Homo sapiens: one gene and its partner. The protein of the gene in region 1 interacts with the protein of each later gene in a pairwise test. Each region holds a gene or a part of one and is shown in the gene's direction. Other genes may lie near its edges. The genes, in order: ARHGAP17 and DNMBP.

Region 1 (16,369 bases):
GGCATAAATGAGACAAGATTTTGTAGAACTTTCAAAAAGAAGTCATTACAAAATGAGACACTTATAAAGAGTAAAGAATTCTTTCAGAAGATAGAAAGATAGAGAGATACGGTGGTTGGTTGCTGGAGGAGCTGAAAGGAGAATGTGATGTATCAGGAGAAACAGCCATGCTTGTGTGCTTAGGGATAGAGACAGATGAAAGACAAAGCAGAATGGGAGATCAGTAGAATGAGGTCTTTGAAGAAGTCTGAATAGATAATGTCCAGGGGACTGTTAGCCTTCAATTGCAAAGCTGGATCCCTTTCCTCTGAAACAAAAGGGAAGGAGTATAGATGAATGAAGAGAGGATGGTGGGATACAGGAAGGGGGTATGGGGGTCTTGACTGCTGGTCTCTAATGTCTTAATAAGGCATGATCATGCCTGAGCAAAGTGATAAAGATTTGGAGAGGCCCTTGAGGAAATAAACAAGGGAGTTGCCCATGAACATTTCCTAGGATTTGGGGCACAAACAAATGCTGACGAATAGGAGCTAGTTAAATAAATTACAGTATATGCATAGGATGAACATCTGCTTTTAGAAAGAATAAGATGGCCTGGGTCAGGCGTGGTGGCTCACGCCTGTAATCCCAGCACGTTGGGAGGCCGAGGAAGGCAGATCATGAGGTCAGGAGATCGAGACCATCCTAGCTAACACGGTGAAACCCTGTCTCTACTAAAAATACTGAAAAAAAAAAAATTAGCCGGCCCTGGTGGTGGGCGCCTGTAATCCCAGCTACTCGGGAGGCTGAGGCAGGAGAATGGCGTGAACCTGGGAGGCAGAGCTTGCAGTGAGCCGAGATCGTGCCACTGCACTCCAGCCTGGGCGACAGAGCAAGACTCCATCTAAAAAAAAAAAAAAAAAAAGAAAAGAAAAGAAAAAATAAGATGGCCCGATCTGGTGGCTATGCTTGTAATCCCAGCACTTTGGGAGGCCGAGGCAGGAGGAATATTTGAACCTGGTAGTTTGAGGTTGCCATAGGCTATGATGTGCCACTACACTCCAGTCTGGATGACAGAGACCGACCCTGTCTCTAAAAAAAGAAAGATGATGATGAAATCATTCACAGAATCTGGAAAGATGTCCAAGATGTAGTGAGATATATATATTTGTGTGTGTGTGTATATGTGTATATATGTGTATGTATGTGTATACATAATACATACATAATAAAATAAGAATAAATAGAAAGCAAATCAGAGAATACACTGACATATATGCAAATATGCACTTTTTTAATATGTATATATACGTATATATGTATGTGTGTGTGTGTGTATATATATATATATATATATATATATTTTTTTTTTTTTTTTTTTCCCCAGAAAGCAGCTGGCACAGTGGCTGATGCCTATAATCCCAGCACTTTGAGGGGGCCGAGGTGGGAGGATTGCTTGAGTTCAGAAGTATGAGACCAGCCTAGGCAACATAGGAAGACCTCATCTCTTCAAAAAAATAAAAAAATTAGCAGGGCGTGGTGGCACATGCCTGTGGTCCCATCTACTTGGGAGGTTGAGGTGGGAGGATTGCTTGGGCCTGCAATGTTGAGCCTGCGGTGAGCCATGATCGCGTCACCGCAATCTAGCCTGGGCGACACAGCAAAACTCTGTCTCAAAATAATAATGATGATGATAATAAAATAAGAATAAATAGAAAGCAAATCAGAGAATAATACACTGACATATATACAAATATGCACTTTTTTAAAAAAATCAAAAAAAAACCAAACAAACAAGTAAACAATAAGGTGGTTTTCTAGGCAATGGAAAGGAGAGTGAGTCGTAGCCAAAAAAGGGAACTTTAATTTTTAAAATGTTATACAACTTGTACTTTTGTGCTGTTCATCTTTTTTCTTACGTAAGGAGTATACACCTATGGTGTTTCTAATAGTTGATCCTTAACACTAATATATATATATTTTTTCTTTTTTTTTTGAGACATGGTCTTGCTCTGTTGCCCAGGCTGGCGTGCAGTGGCATGATCACAGCTCACTGCAGCCTCGACCTCCTGGACTCAAGGGATCCTCTGCCTCAGCCTCTGGAGTAGCTGGGACTACAGGCATATGTCACCACGCACAGCTAATTTTTTAAATTATTATTTGTAGAGACGAGATCTCACTATGTTGCCCAGGCTGGTCTTGAACTCCTAGGGTCAAGGAATCCTTCTGCCTCAGCCTCCCGAAGTGGTGCTGGGATTACAGGCGTGAGCCATCGTGCCTGGCCACAAATTAATATTTTAATTAACCAACATATACACAAATACCTGTTTCTTGCAAAAAAATAAAAGCATTATAAACCCTACCTGAAGTATCCTTTGACCACAACCTCCAATGTCACCAATACCCACCTTCACAAGAAGTAATCACAGTTTAAAGTTGGGTGAATACCTTTACAGCCCTTCAAAGACACTTAAAATCATTAAGAATATTTTTATTAAATTTAAAGAAGCTGAGTGCAATGGCTCACACCTGTAATCCCAGCACTTTGGGAGGCCAAGGTGGGCGGATCACTTGAGGCCAGGTGTTTGAGACCAGCCTGGCCAAAATGGCAAAACCTCATTTCTACTAAAAGTACAAAAATTAGCTGGGCATGGTGGTGGGCGCCTGTAATCCCAGCTACTCAGGAGGCTGAGGTGAGAGAATTGCTTGACCCTGGGAGGTGGAGGTTGCAGTGAGCTGAGATCTCGCCACTGCATGCCAGCCTGGGTGATAGAGTAAGACCCTGTCTCAAAAAAAAAAAAAAAAAAAAAATTAAAGAGAGCAAAACTGAGAACAAATAAATGACTATTTCCTAAAGGCTACTTAATGATAAAGTAGATACACAGCATGGCTTGATCTTTCCTAGTCTCTGAGAATCATCCATTGCTTTGACAGCCTTTCAGCCCAGCTCCTGCCCTCTGGCCAGGTGAAGTCAGCAGAGGTGCACATGTGGGCAAAACCTCTGCAGCAGCATTTTATAGAACATGCCCTGACCCACCCGGTCCTAGTCCAGTCAGCCTCATAAGTGACACAGCAGAGGAACAGGGATTGGCATCTGTTCCTCTGGGTATGAAAGCTGGTGTGTTTCCTAAACTTTGTTGTATATTTTTATTTATTTATTTGAGACGAAGTCTCGCTTTGTTGCCCAGGCTGGAGTGCAGTGGTACGATCTCCGCTCACTGCAACCTCTGCCTCCCAGGCTCAAGTGATTCTCCCACCTCAGCCTCCTGAGTAGCTGGGATTACAGACGCCCACCACCATGCCCACATAATTTTTTTTTTTTTTTCAAGTAGAGATGGGGTTTCAGCATGTTGGCCAGGCTGGTCTGGAAATCCTGACCTCAAGTGATCCGCCCACCTCAGCCTCCCAAAGTGCTGGGATTACAGGTGTGAGTCAATGCACCTGGCCCATATTCAGTTTTTCATTTAATGATTTCACCTGCAACCTTGCTTCCTGGCTTGCATTTTTCATTTGATTTGCAGAAGAAACTAGATTTACCTCCAATACTGTAACTTTTTTTTTGTTTGTTTTTTGAAACAGAGTCTCGCGCTGTCATCCAGGCTGGAATATATTGTCGTCATCATAGCTCACTGCAGTCTTGAACTCCTGGGCTTAAGCGATTCTGCCTCCTCACTTCCAAAGCAGCTGGGGCTACAGACGCATGCTACCATGCCCAGCTAATTTTTTAAATTTTGTATAGAGAGACAAGGTCTTCCTATGTTGCCTAGGCTGGTCTTGAACATCTGGGCTCAAGTGTGACCTGCCTGCCTCAGCCTCCCAAAGTGCTAGTATTATAGGCATGAGCCACCACACCTGGCATATTAATCTCTTGTAATGGCTGATATATACATATATATATACGTGTGTATATATATATATATATATATATATATACGCATATATATATATATATACGCATATATATATATATACGCGTGTATATATATATATATATATATATATATACGCGTATATATATATATATATATTTTGAGACGGAGTCTTCTCACTCTGTCATCCAGGCTGGAGTGCAGTGGCACGATCTCAGCTCACTGGAACCTCCGCCCCCCCGCCCCAGGTTCAAGTGGTTCTCCTGCCTCAGCCTCCTGAGTAGCTGGGACTACAGGTGCCTCCCACCACGCTTGGCTAATTTTTGTATTTTTCATAGAGATGGGCGTTTCACCATCTTGGCCAGGCTGGTCTTGAACTCCTGACCTCATGATCCACCCGCCTTGACCTCCCAAAGTGCTGGGATTACAGGCGTGAGCCACTGCACCTGGCCTGTTTTTTTTCCCCCCTGGATGTTTCTACTACTTTTTCATTGTCCTGTTTTAGTTTACCCATATGCATTTCTAAAATTGATATTCTCTCCTTCAGGTTTCTGACTGCCTGCCTCAAAAGCTCATTTTTATTCATTTATTAGTGAGATTTTCTCTCTAAGAATGTAATTTACTACTTTTGGCTTTGATGAAAAGGTTTTTTCCCCTAAGTAACCTGTCTAAGACATTTTGTTTCTCCTTCAGCTGCTGAATTTCTGAATGCATTTATATATGTTCTTTTCTTTCTAGCTCTGAGATGGCAGCAGTGGAATCAGACAGTCTCTGATTGTCTCCTTGGAGGGATCTAATGGTTGCATCTTTTTCCTGCAGTGATTTTCTTAGCTCTTCAATATCTTGGAGCAATTTAGAAGACTCACTCGACAGAGCAGACTCACTTGCGTGAGGAGATTCTGCGGCATGTGAAGAAAGTGCTTCTCTGGGGAGCTGGGGTAAAATATCCAGCTGTGGGAAGAAACTGTCCTTGCCGTGACAGAGCTGTCTGATGCTGTGCTGCGTGTGTGCTAACTCCTGCCCCAGGTTTTTGAGTTGAGTTTCATTCCCTTCGTTTTTTTGCATCAGGTCACTACAGTTCATCTGGAGTTTAAAATCATTATCACTGTCAGTTAAAAGCTTTGCTTGAAGGTGACAAAGTTCTTCTTGGAGTTGGGCTGCCCCATGCTGCACCCACTGTGGTCGCCAGCTGCTCTTTCCATTTTTTTCTTTCTTTCTTCCTTCCTTCCTTCCTTCCTTCCTTCCTTCCTTCCTTCCGTCCTTCCTTCCTTTCTTTATTTCTGTCTGTCTCTGTCTTTCTTTCTCTCTCTCTCTCTCTCTCTCTTTCTTTTTGAGATGGAGTTTCACTTTTGTCGCCCAGGCTTGAGTGCAATAGTGCGATCTCAGCTCACTGCAACCTCCGCCTCCCAGGTTCAAGCAATTCTCCTGCCTCAGCCTCCCAGGCACCCGCCACCACGCCCGGCTAATTTTTTTTTGTATTTTTAGTAGAGATGGGGTTTTGCCATATTGGCCAGGCTGGTCTCAAACTCCTGACCTCAGGTGATCCGCCCGCCTCGGCCTCCCAAAGGGCTGGGATTACAGGCATGAGCTACCACGCCCGGCCCACACTTCCATTTTCTTAACTGGCTGTTTTAATTTATTAGGTCCTTGTGGAAGCTCCTCAAACGGATTACCATTAACACCTCCAATCTCATGACCAGTGCTGGATGCTTGCAAAATTGTCACTAAAGTTTGACATTCCTGACTTAATGCATCTGTTTCAATGTCTTTTTCTAGAATGAGACATGATGACTTCTGAAAAGTGTCTTTAAATTTCTCCTGACCATTACTAGTGGACAGTTTTTTATTTTCCTCTTGCAGCTTATGGGGGCCTGTTTCATTACCAGCAATAATATCCATTGTTTGGTGATCTTCCTTTTTGAGACAGCTATTTTCTTGAGCTGCCTTATTCCAAACAGCCTGTATTTGTTCTCTGTCCAAAGCAGGTGCTTGCAGTTGCTGCTGAAGGTGAGCAACGCCCTGGGTGTCAGAGGCTGAAGCTGTTCTAGCCTGAAGGCCCTGCACCTCTGTATCTTCCTGACCAACCCCATTGATGGACAGCTGATCCATCTGTTTAAAGTCATATTATTTTTACTTATAAATTTATTCTCCAATTCTTTCTTTCCCCCTCTGGTCCTTGATTCAGGATTAATCTCCAATTCTTGCTCTTTCATTCCTTTCACTAATCTTTCAGTTTCAGATTTAAATAAACTATGCGTTTCACTTCTGCTTTCTATATTGGGACATTCAACTTCTGTTGCTTGAAAAATGGCTCAGAGTCTTTTAATGTCTTGTCCTGTTTCATGCAGCTGGGTTTTGATTCTTTTCCTATTGTGTTTTGCAAATTCCTAATTTCTTCACCTTTTACTGAAAAGAGCTGGGTGTATGTGATACTCATTTGCTTGTGCTGGTTTTAAAAATCATCCATTTCCTACTTTTTTCTCCTCTTTTAAAGACTGAAGCAGTTGCATCTTACTCTGTGTTTGCTCTTCAATTATGGTTATTTATTTATTTATTTTTGAGACAGAATCTTGCTCTGTCGGCCAGGCTGGAGTGTAGTGGCACAATCCTGGCTCACTGCAACCTGTGCCTCCTGGGTTCAAACAATTCTCCTGCCTCAGCCTCTTGAGTAGCTGGGATTACAGGCACCCACCACCACACCCGGCTAATTTTTGTATTTTTAGTGGAGACAAGGTTTTGCCATGTTGGCCAGGCTGGTCTCAAACTCCTGACCCCAGATGATCTACTCACCTCGGCCTCCCAAAGTGCTGGGATTACAGACGTGAGCCGCTGTGCCTGGCCTCTTCAGTCTTTTTTGTTTTTGTTTTTGTTTTTTTTGACGGATTCTTCTTCTGTTGCCCAGGCTGGAGTACAGTGGTGCGATCTTGGCTCACTGCAACCTCTACCTCCTGGGTTCAAGCGATTCTCCTGCCTCAGCCTCCAGAGTAGCTGGGACTACAGGCACTTCCACCGCACCTGGCTAATTTTATTTTTAGTAGAGACAGGGTTTCACCATGTTGGCCAGGCCGGTCTTGAACTCCTGGCCTCAAGTGATTTTGGCCTCCCAAAGTTCAAGTGATTTCTTGAACTCCTGGCCTCAAGTGATTTTGGCCTCCCAAAGTGCTGGGATTATAGGCATGAGTCACCATGCCCAACCTTCAAATATATTTTGATGATACTTTATTCCCTCCTCAAGATTACCTTTGATTATTTTCATTTGAAATATCTCCAATTCTAGTACCATAATAGTATCTACCATTCTAGGCTCAGCCACAGGGGCAGTTAGACTTTGTTGTCCTCTGAGTCATTTCAATTCTTCTATCAGATTTTTTTTTCTTTCATGGATGCAAGACATCTGTCTTTTTCCTCTATGGTTTGCTATGAAATTTCTTTCTTTCTTTCTTAAGGTTTTAGTATAATAATTCCTCTGGAAGCTCTGAACTTCCTTTAAGTTTTTTTTTAAAAAAATTGCTTTCTCTCTTATAAGTTGTGTCAATTGCTTCTGCTCTTCTCAACTAGATGACAAAATCAAATCAGTCTCTGATTGTCTTCTTGGAGGGATCTAATGGTTGCATCTTTTTCCTGCAGCGATTTTCTTAGCTCTTCAATCTCTTGGAGTAAATTTAGGAGCACTTTTTCTTTAGTTTCTTTATGGTCAGTGTCCATCTGTTTAATATTCTTTTTTTTTTTTTGAGACAGTAACCTTGTCACGTTGTCTCTGTCACCTTGACTGGACCACCCTGTCACCTAGGCTGGACCACCCTGCAGAGGCCAGATCTCAGCTCACTGCAACCTCTGCCTCCAAGGTTCAAGCGATTGTCTCGTCTCAGCTTCCCCAGCAGCTGGGATTACAGGCGCCCGCCACCACGCCTGACTAATTTTTGTATTTTTAGTAGAGACTGGGTTTCACCATGTTGGCCAGGCTGGTCTTGAACTCCTGACCTCAGGTGATCCACCTACCTCGACCTCCCAAAGTGCTGGGATTACAGGTGTGATGCATTGCACCCAGCCTCAATATTCTTTTTGAGTGCTGACATTTCAGAGTCTTTCTCGTGGCTGAGTTTAATTACACACTCTTGCTCTAGCTGTAAGGCAGAGCTCTCCAGGTTAGCTTCAGTGGACAATCTTTTCATGGTTTTCTCAGAGTTGTTTCTTCCAATAGCCTCTTTTCAGCTAGGGGTCTCACTCTGTCACCCAGACAAGAGTGCAATGGTGTGATAATAGCTCACTGCAGCCTCAAATTCCTGGGCTCAAATGATCCTGTTGCCTCAGCCTTTCAACTAGTTGGGAGTACAGGTGCATGCCACTGCTTCTGGCCTTTTTTTTTTTTTTAAATTTTTCATAGAGATGAGGTTTTAGTATGTTGTCCAGGCTAGTCTCATACTCCTGAGCTCAAGTGATCTTCCCATCTTGACCTCCCAAAGTGCTAGGATTACAGGTGTGAGCCACTGCACCTGGCCCCAGAAGATAATTTTTTATTTGTCTTTTACTCTATGTTCAAATTCTTCAATTTTTTGGTAGACTCTACTTTTTCAATTTGTAGAGCTTGCATGAATAGTGTTTTCCTTCTCTTGAAGTTTAGAGAGATCATGTACTGTAATTCCTGAGCCACCTTGCTGTAACAAATTTTCCAGTTCTTCAATCTTTTCTTCCTAATTGCTTAGATTTTCTTGATGCTTACAACTTATTTCCCTCAATTTCTGTTGATGAACATTCTGTAATACTGATAATTCAAGCTGATGGTCATCAGTATCCTGACTTCTTTTTTGTTTGAGCTCCTTGATGATATTAATATTTGGTGTTTGTAGTTTGTAGATTTCATTTTCATCAAAACTAGTTGTTCCTCCTATTTTATAAGTCTGAGCAATACATTTCCAATGGCCAACTGGAGACTCAAGTTTTAGAACTTCATTGGACTATCTGTTTATTTCTTGTTATGATGAAATTATGTCATAAAAACCCATGTAAGCGTCGTGGAACACTGAAGCATGATGGGTACCACATGGAATGGAGGGGATGCAGTGTGGATGGGAACCTCCGGCCTTCCCTGAATGTGCTGACTCCAGGGCTGGCTGCCGGTCCTGCAACCGATCCTGTAGTGCTTGCTTTCTTGTTTTAGGAAGGCTCATTTCTACCTCTTTCTGTTGTAATTGATGTCGATAACTTTTAGTTTGCTGCCCTATCTGAAGCTCTGATGCTTCCTAGGTCTCTCCTAGGTCACTAAAAAGATCTTGAAGTCCCTCATTCTTTGATATTAAGAATTCCAAACTGGCATCAGTCTCCTTTATCCCATAGTTAGGGAGCTCTTTCCTTTTTCTATGACATTTAGGAGCACATTTGAGATGTGGCTGATGAAAGAAGCCACATTGCTGCCCATCCAATGCAAAGAAGGGGCTTACCTGGAGCCAAGGCCACCAAACCAGGAAGACATGAGTGTGTGAGCACGTGTGTTAAGGAAAACACACATTGACTTTAATTTTTTTTTTTTTTTTTTTTTTCGAGACAGGGTCTCTCACTCTGTTGCCCAGGCTGGAGTGCAGTGGCGCCATCTCGGCTCACTGCAACCTCTGCCTTTCGGGTAAAAGCCGTTCTCCTGCTTCAGCCTCCTGAGTAGCTGGGATTACAGGCGTCCACCACCACGCCCAGCTAAATTTGTATTGTTAGTAGAGACAGGATTTCACCGTGTTGGCCAGGCTGCTCTCGAACTCCCGAGCTCAAGTGATCTGCCCCCTCGGCCTCCCAAAGTGCTGAGATTACAACGTTGAACCACTGCGCCCTGCTAGAAACAGCTTTTCATACGTTGAAATAAACGAGAGGGTGACCGGGCAGCGTTGGGGTCGGGGAGGCCAGGCGGAGGAGGCCTAGTGGTCTTCTCGCCCGGGGCCTTCTAGCTCTTCGCCCGTGTCAGGTAAGGCACTGTTAGCCTCGGCTCGGTTCGACTCGGCTCTACTCGGGCTCAGCTCGGCTCGGCCAGACCTAGAGGGCGGGCGGGCGGTGCCACTGGAAGTGACGAGGCGAGGGCGGGGCCGCCGGCCCGGGGAGCCACCGCCGCGCCGCCGTTTGGGCCGGGAAGCGATGTAGTAGCTGCCAGGCTGTCCCCCGCCCTGCCCGGCCCGAGCCCCGCGGGCCGCCGCCGCCACCGCCGCCATGAAGAAGCAGTTCAACCGCATGAAGCAGCTGGCTAACCAGACCGTGGGCAGGCGAGTGCGCCGGGCAGCACGGGGGTCGCACCGGGGCTGGGGGCGGAGGGCGGAGGGCGCGGGGGCGGGACGGCTCCTCCGCGGTCCGGCGGCTCTGAGCTGGGCCGCAGCCCCTGCCCGAGACCAGCGGGGCACGGGCCCGGGGGCTGCGCCGCGCTGAGGCCCGAGCGCCGCGCTCCAGGCGGCCCGCCTGTCTCTCAGCGCCGCCGGGCTCCCGAGACCTGCAGGGGAGGGCCGCCGCCTCCTCCGCCACACCGCGGGGTCCCCTGCCCATTGTCCCTGCCCCGGGAGCATCGCCCTCGGGGAGTAGACCCGGTCCTTCTCCTCCCTTCCCGGGGGCCGAGCCAGCTGGGATCGCTGCCCTGGGCTCAACAACGGTGACTTCTGTCCCTAACGCTGTGCCGAGCGCTGTGCTGTGGGGGGCGGCAGTCCCAGGCTTTCCCGGTGCTCCCGCTGTTTGCGAGTCCTTCTCCTGTAAGTGCATGGCGGCAAGAAATGGCTAGAGGGACATGAAAGCCAGCCGGATTTGCTCAGTGAGTTCAGAACGCCCTTTGAGGGAATTCGGAGGTGGTGCTGTCTCAAAACCAGGGCTCCTAGGAACTGGACTGCTGCTGCCAGTTCTTGACATTTAGAAATTAGGAATTGGCGGAAAAGGATTATGGAGACGCCTTGCGCCAATTTAAAAAGTCTCACCTTAGGTTTGGAAACAAATGCTTCTTTATCTTCCTTTGCTACGGTTGAAGTGCTTAACAAGAAACGTTATTGATTATTAAATGGCAGGCTAGACCAGAGTTGGTAGATCAGGTTGTCAGAACAAGAAATGATTTGTGGTTTTTGAGAGTTTCTGGAGGTGACTGTCATGTGCTGTATTATCTGGGGCTAATATTTCAAGGTCTTTCAGGGCAGCTGGCTGTACTGTACCGATTTAGTGTTTATTCAGCAAAGAGATACGAAAGTATGAATTTCTCACAGCTCTTCTTTTGATTTTCTGTTTTTAACAGTTAAGGGGAGTTTGGTTTGGCTGAAGCACGTGGGACACTTCTTTTTTTTGAGTGTATGAAAATACTTTTACTTCCTCTCGAGTTTTCTAAATTTGCTTTTTACTGTTTCATTTCCTCCATCTTTTTGCTTAGTTTCCTTGTTTAATTTTTTCGATTCCCTACCGTATTATTGTGGTGAGAATTAACTCTTATTTTCAGGGTTAATCGCTGCCCCTAAAGCCCAGACAAACCTACTTTTCTGTTATTTGCAGGAAAATTAAAGAAATAATGCTGAGAGGAAGGTAGACGTGTGGTAATGGCGGCTGATGTTTCAAGGAACAGTTTACAAGCACATGATAATTTCTTGTGAGTTTCGTACCCTTGTTAGTGTTCTGAGCAACGTGCATTGTGGAACTAGTATTTAGTAAGTGCCAAGATACATTTGTCAAATAGTCGTTTGGCTTGTTTTTACATTGTTCGTGACAGGTAAGGGACTTTCACTCTTTTTATACAAAGTTCTGAGACTTAAATCTACCAAGCTATTTAGGGTCTCTTTGACTCCTGGGTCATCTTAGAGGCTTCTCCCTTCACACTTTTTTTTTTTTTTGAGACAGGGTCTCCCTTTGTCACCCAAGCTGGGGTGCAGTGGTGCGATCTTGTCTCATTGCAGCCTTGACTTCCCTGGGCTCAAGCGACCCTCTCGCCTCAGCCACCTATGTGGTTGGAACTACAGGTGGGCACCACCACATCCGCTAATTTTTGTATTTTTTGTAGAGTGGGGATTTGCCATGTTGCCTAGGGTGGTCTCGAACTCCTGGCCTCAACTGATCTGCCTGCCTTGGCCTCCCAAAGTTCTGGGACTACAAGCGTGAGCCACCTTGCCTGGCACCTTCACATTTTAAAATTCCGGCCATGCTTGCCTACCTTCAGTTTCCACAGGAGGTCTTGCTTTCTTACCTGCTAGCATCTACTTGGAACTCCTGGAAGCCTCTCCCACCACACCTTTTCTCCAGGCACCTCTTGCTCATTCTTCAGCCTTCTGGGAAAGGTCCCTCTGCCTCTGAAAGGCCTTCTATGATGCTACAGCATAGATTGGATGCCTCTCCTGGGCGTTCTTGTAATCCTGTGTAGCACTTGCTTTTCTGTGCTGTGACTGCCTCTTGTGTGTGTTCTCCATCAGATAAATACCTTGAGAGTCCTTGCTGTGTCTCCTTTGATTCCCAGGGTCTGCTGTGGTTCCTACCCCATGGCCAGGGTGCAGTAGACATTGTTAATTCTGGTATTTGAGTTCTTACTAGATCGCCTTGGTGGTGTGGGCCCGAGTATGGGAAAACATGAAGTGGATAGAGTAGATGGTGATTCATGCTGGAGCTGTAATTCTGGGCCTGACCTTTGACTGTCTTTAAAAATCTTTATTGCTAGATGCCAGTGGAAGCTGAAGCTATTACAGAACTATTAAGGGTGTGGCAATTATGCACCCAAAGTCAGAACATCTGTTTTTAACTGGGAAACCTGTTGCTTCCTTGCTGTTGATTTCCTAGATGTGTGTGTGTATGTGTTTTCTGCTTAAGTAATCAGAAAGGACTAAGGAAGATAAACGGAGGCTGGAGAGTGCCTAGAATTGTTACTGCTTGGAAGTAGGTGGTTGGTTGGCCCCAGAATCAGGATTCTGGGTGTTTTTAGGTCAAGATGAAGGCTACAAAGCAAAGGGTTTTTTTGTTTTCGCCCCTGCGATCTAGGTGGAGAAGGAAGTTATATATGTGAATGTCATGCCCATCGTGTTTTGGTTTATCAATTTGTGGAATTCTAGGTGGTGTCTTGCAGTGAGATATTCTCCTCAGAAGGGAGACCTTTGAGTACTTTCACTGTAAGGTTCCAGGGGAGGGACTTGTAGAGAATTAGTAATGCCTGGAAGGAATGAGTTCGCATGATGCAGTTTGTTTACGATGGGTGGGTAAGTCTATTTGAGAAGACGGCCTGAAACTCACAGGGGCAAGGCTTATGAGGTGGTCTCATGGTGTGAGTGTCCCAAAGAAGAGAAGTAGGATGGTTCTTTTAGTCCACCTGCCTTTTGTTGATTCATGCATTCAACAGACACTTGTTGAGCCTACACTGTGTCCTGTTATCCAGGGTATTAAAGAATCAAAGGTGAATACGGGCATGGTTTCTGCCCTGAGGGAGCTCAGGAGATACGTGGAAGAGGTAGGCAGGCAAAAAATAATTATATACATGAGATAAGTGCTTAAGAGGGATGGCTAATGCACAGAGCAAAACCCAGCTGTCATTGGATTGAGGGAGGTAACAAAAGCTTCCCAGAGGAGAAAATCTGAGCACCTTTCTCTGCCTTCATTTTCAAGCCCTTATTTCAAATATCTCTTGTATTGATTAGGTCTCTTTTGGTTGTAAGAAAACCCAGTTCATAGCAAAGACGGGAATTGATTGGCTCATAAGTGACCAAAAGAGCCTCTAATAAGTAGTGTGGCTGCAGATTTGGCTTCTTCTGGGGGTTCCACTCTTTTTTTTTTTTTTTGAGACGGAGTCTGGCTCTGTCACCCAGGTTGGAGTGTAGTGGCGCGGCTCACTGCAGCCTCCACCTCCTAGGTTCAAGCAATTCTCCCGTCTCAGCCTCCCAAGTAGCTGGGACTACAGGCCTGTACCACCATGCCCGACTGATTTTTGTATTTTCAGTAGAGATGTGGTTTTGCCATGTTGGCCAGGCTGGTCTCAAACTCCTGCCCTCAGATGATCTGCCCACCTTGGCCTCCCAAAGTGCTGGGATTACAGGCATGAGCCACTGCGCCTGGCCTCGGTTCCACTCTTTAGGTAGGCACTGTGTCCACTGGGAGACTTCCACATCTTCCAAGTCTCAGAGGGAAAGAATACTCATCTCGCAGTCACTGTGGCCCGAGTCCCAGGATTGGCTCTGAATGCTTCTGGGTCACATGCCTTTCCCCAGAAATGGACTGGAGTCAGCGCACCCAAACCATATGGACTGAGAGTGGATGGTAATGGGTGGTAATCAGGCAAGAAATAAAGGTCATGGTGTGTCTTTTGTAGCCCTGCTAAAAAGAGAGATGTTTTGTTTCTTGAAAACCCTTAGATGCAGATCATCACCAATGGTGTTTTTGGGGAGATGATGTCTTGAGTAGAGGAAGGAGTACACTGGGATGAAGACCTTGAAGTTACAGAAGTATCAAGGAGAAAAAAAATTTGAGAGACAACTAGGAGAGCATAGTACTGAGGCTCTGATAGGGAGTGTCTCCTTGGGTGTTGATTTCTTCCCTGACTGAAGTTTCCCTTGGAGGTCTGAATGCTTTCACAGATAGTTGTTTTTTGAGAACCCAAGGTTGTAAACCCAAATGCCTAGAGGGCGAGGCCAGTAAAATGAATCAGTGCTTTGGGCCATGTGAAGGCCTCAGGGGACCTGGAGGACTGTGTCCCACCAAAGGGGCTGCTGTGGTAATGTAGGCCCAGTGTGGACCACCTGTGGAGTTTTCCTGAAATCTGCATTTTAACTAGCTGGCGTTTAATCCAAATTAAACTACGGGGACACTATATGCAGCTGAACAAAATATTTCTGTGGATCACCCAACTGCTTGTCTAGAAGGACTCAGAAATTGACAGTCCCTCTTTTTCATTTATTCCCCTGTACCTTACCCTGATGTTTTCAGTTCTTTGGATTTGTTGAAAAACAGCTCATCCTTTCTTTACTAAAATCTTGAAAAGGTCTGATAGTAACAGTCTATAACATTTCTATGGTGGTTTAGTTTACAAAGTGCTGTACTAAACCACCTGGCTTGGATTTCGTCTCCTGACAATGATAACTTCTCTCTGACAAAGATGGAAACCTGGCTGGGTGGGGTGGGGTGGCTCACGCCTGTAATCCTGACACTTTGAGAGCCCGAGGTAGGAGGATCACTTGAACCCAGGAATTTCAGACCAGCCTGAGCAACATGGTGAAACCCGGTCTTTACAAAAAATACAGAAAACTAGCCAGGAGTGGTGGTGTTTGCCTGTCTCAGCTGCTTGGGAGGCTGAGGTGGGAGGATCAACTGAGCCTGGAAAGTCGAGGCTGCAGTGAGCTGAGATCATGCCACTGCACTCCAGTCTGGGTGACAGAGCAAGACCCTGTCTCAAAAAAAAAAAGAAAAAAAAGAGGAAGAAACCTGACTTTCTAAGTTTGCACAGTTACTGAGTAGTGGCTGAGGCATGGCTTGGGTCCAGGGCCTCTTCCTGTGGTTCCCAAGTGCTTTTGAGTACAGGAACTGGGCTGCCTCTTCACCAGGGAAGGATTAGTGTTTATTAATGTTTATTAAACATCTTCTGTGCTTATGAAGCTGCTGGGCTTGGTGCTTTGCATACTTTTATTTCATTGCATTCTCATAGCCACCCTCTGAGGTGATGTTACTTATTTCTGATTTAATGATGAGGAAGCCAGAGATCAAAGAGGTCATCAAGCTCGCAAGAGACAGAGCCGTGGACCCAAACCCAGGTTTCTGATTCTGCAGCAGCTATAAATTCTGATCACAGAGATCTAATGACCTCTAGGAGTCTTCCACTCCTAGGAGGTATGTAGAATGGACCACTCACTAGGTAGTTGGATCCACTACCAGCAATGTGAATTCTCACACTGAGTCAAAATGTGTCTCTACCTACTGATCCCAGAACAGTCCCCTGCTGCCGAATTGAATGAATCTCATCTCTCTTCCCTGAGTCAGCCCTGCCTGTATTTGATGATCACAAACCTTATCCTTACGTTGCCAGCAGTAACATTCTGCATCCCTCACCCACTCCACTGTGTCCTTTTCCTCCCACTGATCTTCACTCTACCTTTCCTTCCCCCCACCCTTTTTTTTTTTTTTTTGACGGAGTCTCGCTCTGCCGCCCAGACTGGAGTGCAGTGGTACAATCTCGACTCACTGCAACCTCCACCTCCTGGGTTCAAGCGATTCTCCTTCCTCAGCCTCCCGAGTAGCTGGGCTTACAGGCATGAGCCACCAAGCCTGGCTAATTTTTGTATTTTTTAGTAGAGATGGAGTTTTGCCATGTTGGCCAGGCTGGTCTTGAACCCCTGACCTCAGGTGATCCACCCACCTTGGCCTCCCAAAGTGCTGGGGTTACAGGCGTGAGCCACCACGCCTGCCCACTCTGCCTTTTCTAGGGGAACTCTGAACAGTATTTCTGAGAAGGGATAGGTAATGTGTGCTTTGCTTCAATCTGAGTGGATTCCATCAACCTCTCCATAGAGCAGGGTGGAAAGAGGTCCTCTTGTCGTTGCAGCAGCTTCTCAATCTCATCTTTT
Region 2 (16,289 bases), on another chromosome or scaffold:
ATATGAGCCCTTTGGGATGAAGTCCATCCCGGGCACTAGATCAAAGGAATTGAGTGAGTTTCCTCAAATCCTTTCTGGAATCAGATGAAGAATAAATAAATGAAGAAATAAAGTGACCACAATTTTGTTCTTTTTAAAAATATCCAAATATAGTATTTGAAACACACGGTAGTTTATAGAAGGCTTTTATTTTACAAGCCAATAATTTTTTTTAATGTCAGACATTGGTACATTACCAATGTTGTAGCAAGGTTTGAGGGAGGTACATCTCACGCATGAGCATGAAAACTCAATCATCATGCTTATGACCTACAAAATGACCTAATTTTTTTTTAATGGAAGGATAAAGGGCCCACCAACTTTCTTTTTTTTTTTTTTTTCGATAGGGTATTGTTCTGTTGCCCAGGCTGGAGTGCAGTGGCACAATCACAGCTGCCTGCAACCTTGACCTCCTGGGCTCAAGTGATCCTCCTTTCTCAGCCTCCTGAGTAACTGAGACTACAGGCATGTACCACTATGCCTGGCTAATTTTTAAATTTTTTGTAGAGATGGGGGTTTCACCATCTTGCCCAGGCTGGTCTTGAACTCCTGAGCTCATGTGATCCTCCTCCTTCAGCCTCCCGAAGTATTGGGGCTACAGGCATGAGCCACCATGCCTGGCTACTTTCTATTTTGGACTAACTTTCTAATTTTCTATTAAGGACTATTGGTAAAATACAATTGTTATCCACTATCACCATCAATTCGTAAATACTCTAACACCAAAAATTAGGAAAGGTATAATCTCAGAATAAAGAAGTCTTGTAAATGAAATTTTTCTCATCTTACTAGGAAATAGTAAATCTTCCATCTTAGACTGGCATATTGAGCCAGTAGTTTAGAGATGAGACCTTTATTGGCATATAACTAAAAATCCAGACATAGCTGGATTGAGGTGCCTAAGTTAGGTGGTATGGAATCTCTCTCCATTTCTTGATTTCATTGTCTTCAGTAGTGACTTCATTCTCACATAGTCTCTCTCCATGAGGCAAGGTGAACAACAGCTCCTTTTAGCTTATCTTCTCTCAGCTATCAAAAGACAAAATTACAACAAATTTAGATTAAAGATCGAATTGGCTTTTATTTGCAATTCTAGAATTGGGCAACAACTCATTCTATAAGATAGAATGAGTGTTCAGATGAGTTGAGCAGAGAAATTTGACTTTATAGGCAGAAGAGGGCTGAAGAACGCAGGAACAGAACAAAAACTGATTGGTTGTTACAAAGTTACTTTCCTTATAAAGGTTAAAGCAGAGGGGGCCACCTCATCATGCTTCCCAAAACAGGCCTGTTTGGGGATTTGGCTATTATCTATTTCTTGCCTGATTTCTTGGAAGATCAAATAAATAGCTTAGTTTTGGCTTGGTGGAAACTTCAGTATGAGTAACTCCATTTTGGTTTTATCTGTTAAGCCTAGTGCAAGAGCTCAGTTCCACCCAATGGCCTCCTATAAATTTCATTTAACACAGTTTAGCAACAAACTATTGATTCTTGAGCATGAATCTCAATAGCACAAACTGGATTACGTGCCTATCTCTAAAACTATCACAGTGACTCTGATTGGTCAGTCTGGGGTCATATGATCACTTCTGGGTGCTGGAATGGAAATATGGGGGACTGCGAGTATAGATGAGTTGTTTCCCATTAAAACAAACAAACAAAAAATCCCTGGGAGATCAAGACAGGCAGATCACTTGAGGCCAGGAATTCGAGACCAGCTTGGCCAACATAAAACCCCGTCTCTACTAAAAATAGAAAAGTTAGCCGGGCATGGTGGCACATGCCTGCAATCCCAGCTACTTGGGAGGCTGAGGCAGGAGAATTGCTTGACCGTGGGAGGCAGAGGTTGCAGTGAGTGGAGATCATGCCACTGCACTCCAGCCTGGGCAACAGAGCGAGACTCCATCTCAAAAAGAAAAAAAACAGGAATGATGGTTGTGGACAAAACAACAAAAGAGCATTATAATTTTGTTGAATTTAAGCATCATTTTGATTTTACTGTGACTTTTTTCTGTTTTATTTATCTTTCATTGACATATAATTGTACATATTTATGGGGTACAATATATGTATACATTGTATAATTAGCAAATCAGAGTAATTAGCAAATCCATCATCTCAAATATTTATTACTTCTTTGTGGTGAAAACATTCAGAATGCTCTCTTTTAGTTAATTTGTTTTTATTGATTCTTATTTTTTATTTTTAAATGGAATTTCGCTCTTGTTGCCCAGGTTGGAGTGCAATGGCATGATCTTAGCTCACTGCAACCTCCGCCTCCTGGGTTCAAGCAATTCTCCTGCCTCAGCCTCCCAAGCAGCTGGGATTACAGGCATGCGCCACCACACCCGGCTAATTTTTTTGTATTTAGTAGAGACAGGTTTTCACCATGTTGGTCAGGCTGGTCTAGATCTCCCGATCTCAGGTGATCCACCCACCTCGGCCTTCCAAAGTGCTGGGATTACAGGCGTGCCCCACCATGCCTGGCCCTTATTTTATTTTATTTTTTCTGGAGATGGAATCTTACTCTGTTGCCCAGGCTGGAGTGCAGTGGCACGATCTCGGTTCACTGCAACCTCCGCCTCCCAGGTTCAAGCTATTCTCCTGCCTCAGCCTCCTGAGTAGCTGGGATTACAGGTGTGCAACACCATGCCCAAGTATATTTTGTATTTTTAGTAGAGACGGGGTTTCACCATGTTGGTCAGGCTGGTCTCAAACTCCTGACCTCAGGTGATCCCCCTACTTCGGCAAAGAAAGTCACCCCTTGGATCCATGTTCACCCCGCAGGAGCGGGGAGAAAAGGCATCTTTGACTTCCTTTTAGATTGTCCCATGTGAGCCCTTTGGGATGAAGTCCATCCCGGCACTAGATCAAAGGAATTGAGTGAGTTTCCTTAAATCCTTTCTGGAATCAGAGGAAGAATAAATAAATGAAGAAATAAAGTGACCACAATTTTGTTCTTTTTAAAAATACTCAAATATAGTATTTGAAACACACTGTAGTTTATAGAAGGCTTTTATTTTACAAGCCAATGATTTTTTTTTAATGTCAGACATTGGTACATTACTAATGTTGTAGCAAGGTTTGAGGGAGATACATCTCACACATCAGCCTTCCAAGTAGCTGGGATTACAGCCACACACCACCATGCCCGGCTAAGTTTTGTATTTTTAGTAGAGACAGGGTTTCAGCATGTTGGCCAGGCTGGTCTTGAACTCTTGGCCTCAAGCGATCCACCCCACCTCAGCCTCCCAGAGTGCTGGGATTACAGGTGTGAGACATTGCGTCCAGCCATGGTTTTTACTTCTGAGTGTGAAATAATTCTCTGTTTTCCCGTAAACCAATTCAAGCTTCTGCAAGTAGATAGGAAGAGGAGTCCCTAGGCATCAATATATCAATATATTAAGAACAGCCCTGAAGATAAACATGATACAGTCTTTTCTTCAGAATACAGAAGCTTTCTTATAGGGTCTGTTCTCTTCTAGGAAGAACAAAACAAGACCTGGTCTTACTCTTGCCAACCAGGGTCTATCCCTAAATGAAACCAAATGGCCTCTGTTGTCTTCTAGGAGTTGGCCTTGTCCTAGTTCAAGTCCACCAGACAGATGCCCTCTGTGAAAACTATCCTGACTTGGCCGGGTGTGGTGGCTCCGCCTGTAATCCCAGCACTTTGGGAGGCCGAGGCAAGTGGATCACCTGAGGTGAGGTCAGGAGTTCGAGAACAGCCTGGCCAACGAGGTGAATCCCCATCTCTACTAAAAATAGAAAAATTAAACGGTTGTGGTGGTGGGCGCCTGTAATCCCAGATACTTGGGAGGCTTAGGCAGGAGAATTGCTTGAACTCGGGAGGCGGAGGTTGCAGTGAGCCGAGATCCCGCCATTGCACTCCAGCCTGGGCAACAAGAGTGAAACTCCGTCTCAAAAAAAAAAAGAAAAGAAAACCATGCTGACTTCTCCTTTGCCTGTGAGATCTGATCACCAATCTTCCTCTGTCGATCTCTTTTCAACTTGAATTCTCACCGTTCTGAACCTTGGCCATGAGACTGCCAGGTGCATTGTGTCAACATTTTGATGAATAGTTGTTAGTATTTTCATGTGATGTCTGACATTTTAGGATGCAAACCTATGTCTTCCATGTTCTATCACTAGGTTGTTGGATCACATTTTCTTTTATAATAGAAATAAGCATATATTAACAGTATTTTATCTATACATCCCCTCCTCCCCACCACCCTGGAATTTGGTCCCCTGGCTATTCCAGGATGGACGGTTAGCTGACATAGCATGAGCAAGGCCAGCTTTGATTAGTTTCAGCAGCTCACTACTCTCATCTGCTTGCCATTGCAAACAACAGCTTATGGCTGTGACATGGTGCATTGTGGGGGGAAGCCAGAGGGAGTTGCCTTTGATATGGGGCCAAGTCATGCCAAACTGTTAGTTCATGGTGCAGCCCCTCATAACCGTGATAGTACTTACGGTATATCAAAGGATGACACACCCAAATAGTTTTAATCAATTAGATGAATCAAAATATGAATTGAGCCATTCTGTGTTTTGGTTTATTGAGGATTATTCAAGGGGAAAAACAATGTACTTTTTAGTTTTAATATGACATATACAGATATAATCCTTATTGTTAACAAGGCAGTTCCACACACATTTATCTCGTTTGGTTATTTTCATTTCAGTCCCTTCATTTGGGGATATTTTAATCACGTCTCAATACATCAACTTATCACAAAAATCAATCTCTTTACCATGGCTCACCAAACCAGAAATGACCTACATACTGTTTGTTAGATAGTTATTATTTGGCCGTGTGCGGTGGCTCATGCTTGTAATCCCAGCACTTTGGGAGGCCGAGGAGGGTGGATCACCTGAGGTCAGGAGTTCAAGACCAGTCTGACCAACATGATGCAACCCCATCTCTACTAAAAATACAAAAATTAACCGGTTGTGGTGGCGCATGCCTGTAGTCCCAGCTACTTGGGAGGCTGAGGCAGGAAAATCAGTTGAACCTGGGAGGCAGAGGTTGCAGTGAACCAAGATTGCACGCACTACTGCACTCCGGCCTGGGCGACAGAGCGAGACTGCATCTCAAAAAAAAAAAAAGAAAAAAAAAGATAGTTATTATTATTATTATTAAGAGACAGGGTCTTGCTATGTTGCCCAGGCTGGAGTGCAGTGGCTATTCACAGGCACAATCATAATGTGCTGCAATCTTGAACTTCTGGGCTCAAGTGAGCCTCTCACCTCACCCTCCAAAGTAGCTGGGATTACAGATGCGTGACACTGCACCTGGCCCTGTTTGTTTTCTAATCTGATCTCATAAAACTGCCTCCTTTGTTCACATGGCTTATTTTGTGTTTCCGAAACGTACTAGATGGCTTTCTACTTCAAGATTTTGCACCTGCAGTTTCTCCTGCCTGAAGAGCTCTTTACATGGCTGATTCTTTCTCTCTTTTTTTGAGATGGGGTTTCACTCTGTCACACAGGCTGGAGTGCAGTGGTGCCATCATGGCTCACTGCAGATCGTGGGACTACAGGCTTGAGCCACCATGTCCGGCTTGATTCTTTCTCATTATTCAAGTTTCAGGTAAATGTTACATCCCCAGAGGGGATTTCCCCAACTATCTCTATATTCAGAGAAGGTTCCCATCCCTCACTTTGGCCTTTATCAGCCTAGATTCCTTATCTAAACCACATGACATAGAAGCTGTGTGGAGTGAATTGTCCTCTTAGTTCTTTCAAGGACTGAGTATGACTTGAACTGTTCTGGTTGCTGTTGGGGTCAGGTGAACTTCCTCTTCGCCCTCTGAAGTTTTGCTGAAAAATCAGGTCACAAAAGGCAGATTAATTGGCATATGCATCTGTTTGACAATAGTTTTATGTGACACGGAAGACCAACCCCCCAATGGGGTGCAGAAGCTTATGTACCATCTTGAGGCTACAGAAAAAATGGTGACTTGGATGCTGGCAAAACAGGTTATGGGAGGGTGAAGAAGAGGAATTCTATTGAGGGCAATAAATGATTACTAGGGAGAATTCAATGAACTTGAGGAACTTCCAATGGTCTGGGACAAAGTCTGTTGGGCCTGCAGACCAGACAGTGGTTTGTGACAAAAGTCTGTCCAGGTTTATTGACAGACTTTGGTCTTCTTTCTTGCAATGTGGGTTCAGTTAATTAAAACTCAGGAAAGAGATCAGAGATAATTGTTTTTCTTTGGTAGGTCAGGACTTTGGACAGATAAGGAAACTTCAGAGAATACTATGCTTTGGGAGAGACAGTGAAGAGGGGCAGGTGGGAGGAGGTTGAGAGAGACCTTGAGACTGCTTTTTCAGCTCAACATGTACAAAGCACCCTATTTTAGGGTATTGGTTTCTAAGCCCCAACATTGCATAGGAGAGAAGTTAACTCATTACATACAACAAATGCCTAGGGCACTAGGCTTTAATTCTCTGTGATCTAATCTATCGCATCAGTTGGTTTGTTTCCTTCATAACACTCAACTACACCCCATGATTGTCTGGATTATCATTTGTTTATTTCTTTATTGTCTGTTACCCTACTCTAGAATGTGAGCTCCATGAAGGCAAGGATCTTGTCTGTGTTGGTCAGCCTGAATGCCAAACACCTAGCACAATGCCTGTTACATCACAAATGTACAGTAAGAATTCATTGATAAATGAAAAGTATAAAACCACCTTTGCAAAATTTTAACTGAGGAACTTATGAAGTGAAAGAAAGCAGACCTAACTGACCCCATCTTGCTTCTAACCTTTAAGTTGTCCTCGTTCATTCCTGGGCATAGGCTGAACTAACTTTGGGAAAGAATTCAGTTCATGACTCTGAAACAAAATTGATAATAGCCCTTTGCCAAAAAGACCCCCTTCTTGCCTAGGGACCAGTCTGCCTTTGCAGGACTAACAAATTAGCTACAAGATTAGAAATTACAGTTTAAGGCCGGGAGTGGTGGCTCACACCTGTAATCCCAGAACTTTGGGAGACTGAGGTGGATGGATCACTTGAGGCCAGGAGTTTGAGACCAGCCTGGCCAACAATGTGAAACCTCATCTCTACTAAAAATACAAAAATTAGCTGGACGTGGTGGTGCATGCTTGTAATTTCAGCTACTAGGGAGGCTGAGGCACGAGAATCGCTTCAACTCGGGAGGTGGAGGTTGCAGTGAGCTGAGATTGCACCCCTGCACTCCAGCCTGGGCGGTAGACTAAGACTCCGTCTCAAAAAAAAAAAAAAAAAAAAAAATTACAGTTTAGGGGTCATGCAGCCTCTGACTCCAAGAGCCTGAACCTCCCAAATTGCTCCTGGAATAACATCACTATTTCAAAACCTAAGATCAGTATTTGAGATATTTTGCAGACCCTGCAGTTGATGGATCTGCTGACACCATCCAGACCGGTAATCTGGCTCAACCAGTTCTGCATTGCACCCAGGAGCAGAAAACAGCAAGAAAACCTCATTTTGACCCCCTATGTTTCCATCTCCAACCTGACCAATCAGCACTCCCCACTTCTCAAGACCCCACCAGCCAAATTATCTTTAAAAACTCCACAAGGTCAGGAGATGGAGACAATCCTGGCTAACACGGTGATAGTCCGTTTCTACTACAAAAATACAAAAAAAAAATTAGCCAGGCGTGGTGGCGGGCGCCTGCAGTACCAGCTACTCGGGAGGCTGAGGCAGGAGAATGGCGGGAACCCAGAAGGCGGAGCTTGCAATGAGCCGAGATCACGCCGCTGCACTCAAGCCTGGGAGACGGAGCGAGACTCCGTCTCAAAAAAACAAACAAACAAAAAACTCCGATCCCCAGGCTGGGCGCAGTGGTTCATGCCTGTAATCCCAGTACTTTGGGAGGCCGAGGAGGGTGGATCACCTGAGGTCAGGAGTTCAAGCCCAGCCTGACCAACGTGGCGAAAAAAATAAATAAAACGAAATGCTTGATTTTTCATCTGAATTTCATATGGCATACTTGACTCCAAACAACTTTAGAAAGCTACATCCACAGAAAACAAAATTGTAGGAAACTGAATAATAAGTTATTTTTATTTTGGCTAATAACATTATCCAAAAATAAAGACAATAGATTTGCAATGTTAATTACTTTCTTGAGGAAAGAAAAGTCACTTGTTTTAAAATATTTATTTATTTATTTATTTATTTATTTATTTGAGACGGAGTCTCGCTGTGTCACCACGCTGGAGTGCAGTGGCGCGATCTCAGCTCACTGCAACCTCTACCTCCCGGGTTCAAGCGATTCTCCTGCCTCAGCCTCCCGAGTAGCTGGGACTACAGGCACCCACCACCATGACCAGCTAATTTTTTATTTTTAGTAGAGACAGGGTTTCACCATGTTGACCAGGATGGTCTCGTTCTCTTGACCTCGTGATCCGCCGAAAAGTCACAGTTTTACAGGCAAATGAAGCATTGCTAAGAATTTTAAAGACTCTCCGAACGTTGATATTTTACTACAAAATGTTCTCTTTACAGTGTTAACATGCTTCAAAAAGCAAAGGAAAAAAAAACAGTATGGTGGCTTCTCAAAAAATTAAACACAGAATTACCACATGATCCAGCAATTCTTCTGGATATATACCCAAAAGAATTGAAAGTAGGGACTCAGATATTTGTACACCCATGTTCATTGCAGCATTATTCACCATAGCCTAAAGGTACAAACAACCCAAATGTCCACAGAAAGATGGGATAAACCAAAGATGTTATATACGTACAATTGAGTATTATTCAGCCTTCAAAAGGAAGGATATTCTAACGCATGCTACAACATGGGTGAGCCTTGAAGACATTATGCTAGGTGAAAGAAGCCACTCACAAAAGGACAATATTGTATGATCCCACTTATATGAGGTATCCAGAGTAATCATAGAGACAGAAAGTAGAATGATGGTTACCAGGGGCTGGAGAATGAGGAGTTAGTGTTTAATGGGTACAGTTTCAGTTTGGGAAGATGAAAAAGTTCTGGAGCTGGATGGTGGTGATGGTTGCAGAACAATGTCAATGTACTTAATGCCACTGAACTGTACACTTAAAAAGGATTAAAATGGTAAATTTCATGTGATATATATTTAACCACAAGTTTTTAAAAAGCAAAGGGAAGGAGAAACATATACAGCATGGGATGAGATTTGTGAAATATTTATTTTTGTTGTGCATGCACAGTCATAGACTCGCCGCCTTCTTCAGAATCCTCTAGGTAGATTCCAGAAACGTGAGGCGCAGCAATTCCAGCAACATAGCCAAGCTGTGTAACTTCGTGGTCTTTAAACAAACAACGGGAATACTGCGGGGATTCAGAAACTGAGTCGGAGGAGGAGTTCTGACAGCCCTGCCCAGTTCTTGCTTCTGTCATTTCTTGCTCTCAAATTCTCAAAGATGTCCTGAGAGACTTTCCTCAGAAAAAAATGGGACAGATAGAGGCGAACCCCAGCGAGTATTGTGTGGCATAATAAGGGAAACTGCCTCGGGGTAGCAAAGAGGACAGCATCACACGCAGACAGGAATCGACTTGGACTTCTCTGAATGGAATTTTGACTTTTTTCTAGGTTGGAGGGTGGTGTCGGGAGTGGGGGAACAGCAAGAGTGGAGGAACTTGTCCGCAGCCGGGGCTGCACGTAGGACTGCGTGAGGCCGAGGCCCGACGAGCCGTGTCGGCGCGCTGCGGCGGGGGCGGGCCCCCGTGCCTCAGTTTCCCCGGTGGCCGTTCTGGGAGCGACGCCCCTCTGACGTCGCGAGGCGAGCAGGGCCGGGCCGGCCGCCAGGGGGCGCGAGCGCGGGGCGGGCGCCGGAGAGGTGGGCGCGCGGGCAGCGGAGCTTGGCGCCCCCGGGGCCGCGCGGACCGCGCCGGCAGAGGCGGAAGCCTGAGCGGGAGGCGGGGCGGCGCGCTGACTCACACGGGATCGACCCGCCCGCCGCTTCCAGGGGCGGAGGTGACAGCGGGCTGGGGACTGGCGGCTGCAACTGCCTGCCGCGCCGAGGGACCGCCGGGCGGCGGAAAGCAGGTCAGAGGCCGGGCCAGGCCGGAGCCGGGCGGGGGCCGGGCGGGGAGCGGGGGTCGCGGTCCGGGGCCGCGGGCGGAGGGGACCCGCACCCCGAGAGACGCGCCGCGCCGCGCCGCGCGGCTAGGCCTGTATCGGCCCTTTCCCAGCGGCGGCGCTGTGCTGCGCTCTGTGGGCCAGGAGCCCGCGAGGGACAGTGGGGCGCAGCGGGCCCCCTCGCACTCCTGTAGTCCCCGGGAGTTGGAGGGGTGGTCAGAGCAATGCGAACGTGGGCTTTTCAAGCGGTGTCAAGCCCAGGGCTCTTTCTCTGCACCGCCCTGCCACTCCGGCAATGAGGCGGAATTTTGAGAGCTGGAAAAAGAATTCTGCGTTAGTCCACCCCGCTGATTTTACAGATGTTCGGAGCCTTACGGCATAGGAGGCCGTGATTCTGTGTCAGGGAGACAGGGACAGATGGCTTCCGAAGCAAGGGTTAGACCTGTTCAGCTGGAGATGCAGCTTTGGTCATGGTGGAGTTTTGCAGAAACCCGCGGACACCCGCGTTCCTGCTGCAGGCACAGATGTCCACCGGGCATCTGTGTCTCAAAGGGTGGTGATGCTGTCACTTTAGTAAAGGAATATTGAGGTTACCAAACAGGCCGGGGCCTGATGCAGATGAGGAGTATAGACTTAAATTTTAAGTGCAAAAACAACTTTAAATGCAGTCTCATTATTACTGCCTGTCTCATTTGTACTGTAATGAAGGGTGAATATTTTTGGCACTCACTTATTCTGGAATATGGGTAACTTGCCTTTAGGTCTGTTTTATAGTAATTCTTTTACACAAACATGAAGATCTTGTATTAAAACACTTTCATAACTAATGATGCTGTAGTATGTGGCAGGCGAGTGGTAACGCTAATATTTAGGGTTTGAGCATAGTCTAGCTCTGCTTGTTTACATAGCTGAGTTAAACGGATGAGCAGGACTGATTAATCTGTAGTAGTTTTTGCAAGACTGAAGTACCTGACAGCATTCGGGGATCATTTCTCAGTTGGTGTTCCGTTTATTACTTTCACAGCATGAATACCGACACGGTGATCAGCAAGTTAGTTTATCCTCTACCCATTTTTCTCTAAAATATTGAATTAAAGGATCTCTAAGGTCCTCTTCTGTCTCGAGTTCTCCGATTTTACATGTTAACTTGAAACACGTCACTCATTGTGATAATAAAAATGTTTTAAGAAGAAAAGATTTTTAGAATTCTGCATAATGGGGCATAGCGAATCTTCAAATTCATTATTCTCAGCTCTCTCAGTCACTTTATCAGGGTTGGGCTAAAATAAGTGAAAAGTGACTTTTCAAATTGCAGATACTTACGTGTTAAATTCACTTAAATTCAGAGGCTGCAATGGAGTGATTTCTGGAGGGTGGAGAGTAGCTCAAGTCTGGCTTGGGAACGGGGTTCGTGCAGTGCACTGATAACTTTTGCAATAAGCCAAGAACAGTCTGACTCAGAGAATGTGATAAATTGACTTTTATACAGTGTTCATATTGTGTATTTTTTGGCTGAGATAATAATAATCTTCATAAACGATCTGTTTAAATATGCACCAGTTATTTATTTGTCTTGCAGCCCCAAGGCAGGGCATTTCCCTCAACGTTCCATCAATCTCTTCCTCTTTTCTGGCTCCTGACTTCAGGTGATCCGCCTGCCTCAGCCTCCCAAAATGCTGGGATTACAGGCGTGAGCCACCGAGCCTGGCTTTTGGCTTATTTTCTAGGTTTAGTATTCTGTTGTTTCTAGAGTCAGCTAATGGATTACCTACAACATGGTATTATTACGAGATTATCTCCTGTGAAATTCTCGAATGTGCTTGATCATCTGCCAAAGCATCCTTAGAATTCATTCAGAATACTTCTGGAAAGTTTTGCAACACCAATTCAATTAATATGAAATAGTTTCTTATTATACACACTCTGGAAAACATCTGAATAAGCTAATTTTCAAGATTGGTTAACTTAGTCTTGTTGGTCAGGAGTTAATTATGAGTTATTAGTTTCTTGCCTGGAAAGGCAGAAAGTTCTTAAGTAGCAGCAGTAAAATGAGCTCTTTAATGAAAGAGCCGTTAAACCAAGATGTTAACTTTTAGTTGTGTTCTTTATCCTCCCTGCTATGAAAGGCAGCTGTGGGAGGTGAAATAGAGTAGCTAAAATGTATTATTTCATTTTTAGATTTCTAGATCTTTTCTTCTGACTGAAGGACGTGACCACCAAGAATTGAACCAGCACTTGAGGGCAGGCACATAGGGCATTGTGTGAGGAGTCTGAAGGCATGGCTTTTGGTCCTTACTTGTTTATTCACTGAACACATTCTCACTGAGCACCTGTGTGTGCTGAGAGGGTGGGCACCTGTGTGTGCCGGGAGGAGGAACACCTGTATGTGCTTGTGGGGGGCACCTGTGTGTGCCGGGGTCGTGGTAGCACTTGTGTATGCTGTGGGTGCTGGGAGGGGGAACCAGTTTGAACAAAACAGACTAAGCCCTCGTGGAACAGACACATTCTAATTGGGTGGAAACAGACAAATATGTGAATGAATAGGTCAAAGGATCATAATGCTGTGGAGAACTTTAGAGTCAGGAAAGGGTAAGAGTGTGTGTGTGTGTATGTATATGTGTGGTAGGGGATTTACTTTTTATATAGAGGGGTCAAATAAAGCCTCTACTGAGATAACTTTTTTTTTTTTGGAGACAGAGTCTTGCTCTGTCACCCAGGCTGGAGTGCAGTGGCGTGATCACAGCTCACTGTAGCCTCAACCTCCTGGGCTCAAGTGATCCTCCCATCTCAGCCTCCCGAGTAAGCTGGGACTGCAGGCTTATATCACCACGCTGGGCCAATGTTTGTATTTTTAGTAGACGCGGGGTTTCACTATGTCGCTCAGGCTGGTCTGGAACTCCTGGCCTCAAGCGATCCACCCACCTTGGCCTCCCAAAGTGCTGGGATTACAGGCATGGGCCACCACACCTGGCCTAACTCATGGTGGGAGACTGGAAGGAAATGAGGAAGTGAGCAGGAGGCAGTGGGATGAGCATGTTCCAAACCCTGGTGCAGGAGCATGCTTGGCATGTTAGGGGTGGCAAGGTCATGGTGGCCAGTCAGTGTGGATGTGGGTTGGGGGGAGGTGGCAGCAGATGAGAGGGGGTGGGAGTGGGGAGGACACATCAGTGTAGGTCATTGTAAGGATTTTGGCCTTTACACTGAGTGAGGGGGAAGCCGTTGGAGAGCTTTGAACAGTGAAGTTGATGATGACTTATGTTTTAAAAGGATAACTGGCTGCTGGGTTGAGAATAGACAGGAAGAGGACAAGGGCTGAGTCAGGGAGACCTTTTCAAGCTAGAGCTGTGTGACTCACACCATAATTCTTCCCTGAGTCTTCGTTTCCTCATCTGTAAAATAACTGGGCCCTCTCTAGCTCAAGAATTTTAAGTTTTCAAGTAGTGCAGGGTATTATTTCTACAGGGAGGCAAGAGGATTGCGTGGGAAGAGGTTCTGAAAGTAAATCGCTTCAGATGACCTGAAAACTTGACACCAACCTGCCTGTAGCTGAATCATCCCAAATCAAGAGGTAATCAGGTCTTTTTCAGTCAGATTGTCAGGTCATGAGAACAAAAACACTGTTTCGTAAATATTCTCTGCTCATCCCTTTTGTACTTTGCTGATCCCTGAATTTTCCCTTCCTGATTGAAAAAGGATGAAAAGCTGTTACTCATCAACAGAACTGGCAACCAGAGTAGCTTTTGTTGTTTGGAAAATTGGGAACTTTGGGGAAGGAAACAATTCTGTGTTTATCGTAGGTCATAAGAGTTTTTCTTTTATAACACGCAAGGAATCTAAAAGATTGGTTTTGTTGTAGAATTCCCTTGTCCCATTCATCTCATGTCTCACAGGTGTTCATTCTTAATGCATTGCATGTGCTTCCTTTTGTTTATGTAGGAGCTTGCAAAGTGGGAATGTTTGTTTTATGTGTATGTATCTTGATTTATAATGCTGTAATTCATTTTCCTTTATGTAGTTTGGTTTTTTTTTTTTTTTTTTTTGGAGACTTTTGAGACAAGAGTCTCACTCTGTTGCCCAGGCTGGAGTACAGTGGCGAGATCTCGGCTCACTGCAGCCTCCGCCTCCCGGGTTCAAGCCATTTCCTGCCTCAGCCTCTTGAGTAGCTGGAATTACAGTCATGCGCCACCACGCCCAGCTAATTTTTTTGTATTTTAGTAGAGACGGGGTTTCACCATGTTGGCCAGGCTGGTCTCGAACTCCTGACCTCAGGTGATCCGCCTGCCTTGGCCTCCCAAAGTACTGGGATTACAGGTATGAACCACCATGCCAGGTCTCTGAGTAGTGTTTTTAAGATCCATCCATATTGTTATGTGTCTAATTCTCTGCTTTGGAATGCTGCATTTATACCCCATGCTGTTTGCATCCATTGGTTTTGCTTTATCTGCTCTCTGTGTAGTGAGTGGTTACTCAAGTTGTTCCTACCCCCTAACACCATAAATATTGCTGCAGTGAACATCTTCCTACATGTCTCCTTACAAAGCTGTATAATATTTCTGTGGAATTGCTGGATTATAGGCTTGCAGAGACTGAATTTGATTAAATAGTGCCAGATGCCTCTCCACAGTGGCTGCCCCAGTCTCTGTGCCTCTGGAAGTATTAATATTTGAGGACTCCTGTATCCTCATGTCCCACCAGCACTCGCCTCTTTCCAGCTATCCATGGTTTTCAATCTCGTAAGCACAAAGTGATATCTTGTCGTTTTAATTTATATTTCTTTGATGACTAGAGATTTTGAGTATCTCTTATACAGATAGCTTCCTCTGTAAATTGCTTATTCATGTCTTTGGCATTTTCTGTTGGAGTTGATATCTATTTTGTTGCTGTTGACTTGCAGAAATGATTTTATAATATAGGTATTTATTCCCTGTTATGTTTAGACTTTGCAGATGTCTTCTCATTTGGGCATCTTGACATCTGTTGATCAAATCTTCTCATTTAGTTCTCGTTTTGTCTTTGCCATCCTTTGATCAAGAAATATTTTTAATTTTGATGTAATCAAATAGATAAATTCTTTGACTTGCGGTTTATGTTTTTGGAGTTTTGTTTAAGGAACTCTTCCTGAACCCTAGGTCATGTCTGTGACTTTCATCTCTCTAGGGCCCGCATTTTCATGTGTTAGATAGGAATCCAGCCCTATTTTTCTCCATTTAATGACCCAGTTTTTCTAATAACATGTCAACAAAATCCATGCTTTCCTCTATGAAATTATGGTATCTCTTTCTCATTTGTGGTTTCCATGGATACACTTGTCTGGCCCTAAGCATTTATTTTGTTCCATTAGTCTGTCAGTTCTTACTTCATTTTTTTAATTGCTCTAATTTTATTACAGTGACTTTGTAGTATGTCCTAATGACTGGCACAGCAAGCCATTCATCTTAAAGTTTATTTAGCTCTTCCTGGACCAAAATTTATTTTTTCCATATAAAATTTGGAATAAGTTTACCAGGCTACCCAAACATTATATATACATATATATTTATATATATATATTTTTTCTTTTGAGACCTTGTGTCACTCTGTTACCCAGGCTGGAGTGCAGTGGCACCATCACGGCTCACTGCAGCCTCAACCTCCCAGGCTCAAGTGATCCTCCCATTCTAGCCTCCCAAGTAGCTGAGACCACAGGCATGTGCCACCATCCCTGGCTAATTTTTCTTTTTTTTTTTTGTAATTTTTTTAGAGATAGGGACGCCCTTTGTTGTCCAGGCCGGTCTTGAACTCCCGGGCTCCAGCAATCTTCCTGCCTTGGCCTCCCAAAGTGCTTGGATTACAGGCATGAGCCACTGTGCCTGGCCAAAAAATTATATTTTTGAGGAATTTTTATTGGAGTTTATTGAGTTTATAAATTATTTGAGGAGGGTTAACATCTTATTTTATTTATTTATTTATTTTTTATGTGCCATGTTGCTTTTTTATTTTTTATTTTTCTTTTTAAGACAGGGTCTCCCTCTGTTGCCCAGGCTGGAGTACAGTGGTGCGATGATAGCTCACTGCAGCCACCACACCCAGCTAAATATTTTTATAAGTTTTTTGTTGTTGTTGTTGTTGTTTTAATAGAGATGAGGTCTCACTCTGTTGCCCTGGCTGGGCCCTGGCCAGTAACTCCTGGCCTCAAATGG

What was found.
Region 2: the proteins of ARHGAP17 (region 1) and DNMBP interact in a two-hybrid assay, tested with the Homo sapiens proteins (one study listed by BioGRID and IntAct).

Annotation. Positions count from the first base shown.
Region 1 is NC_000016.10:25,008,927-25,025,295, reverse strand, and holds the start of ARHGAP17 (rho GTPase-activating protein 17), read left to right. Parts: upstream 1-9,926; 5' UTR 9,927-10,034; coding exon 10,035-10,087; intron 10,088-10,417; exon of another isoform or gene 10,418-10,620; intron 10,621-10,667; exon of another isoform or gene 10,668-11,383; coding exon of another isoform or gene 11,384-11,433; intron 11,434-16,369. UniProt on the Homo sapiens protein: Rho GTPase-activating protein involved in the maintenance of tight junction by regulating the activity of CDC42, thereby playing a central role in apical polarity of epithelial cells.
Region 2 is NC_000010.11:100,003,626-100,019,914, reverse strand, and holds the start of DNMBP (dynamin-binding protein), read left to right. Parts: upstream 1-9,967; 5' UTR 9,968-10,077; intron 10,078-10,331; exon of another isoform or gene 10,332-13,678; intron 13,679-16,289. UniProt on the Homo sapiens protein: Plays a critical role as a guanine nucleotide exchange factor (GEF) for CDC42 in several intracellular processes associated with the actin and microtubule cytoskeleton.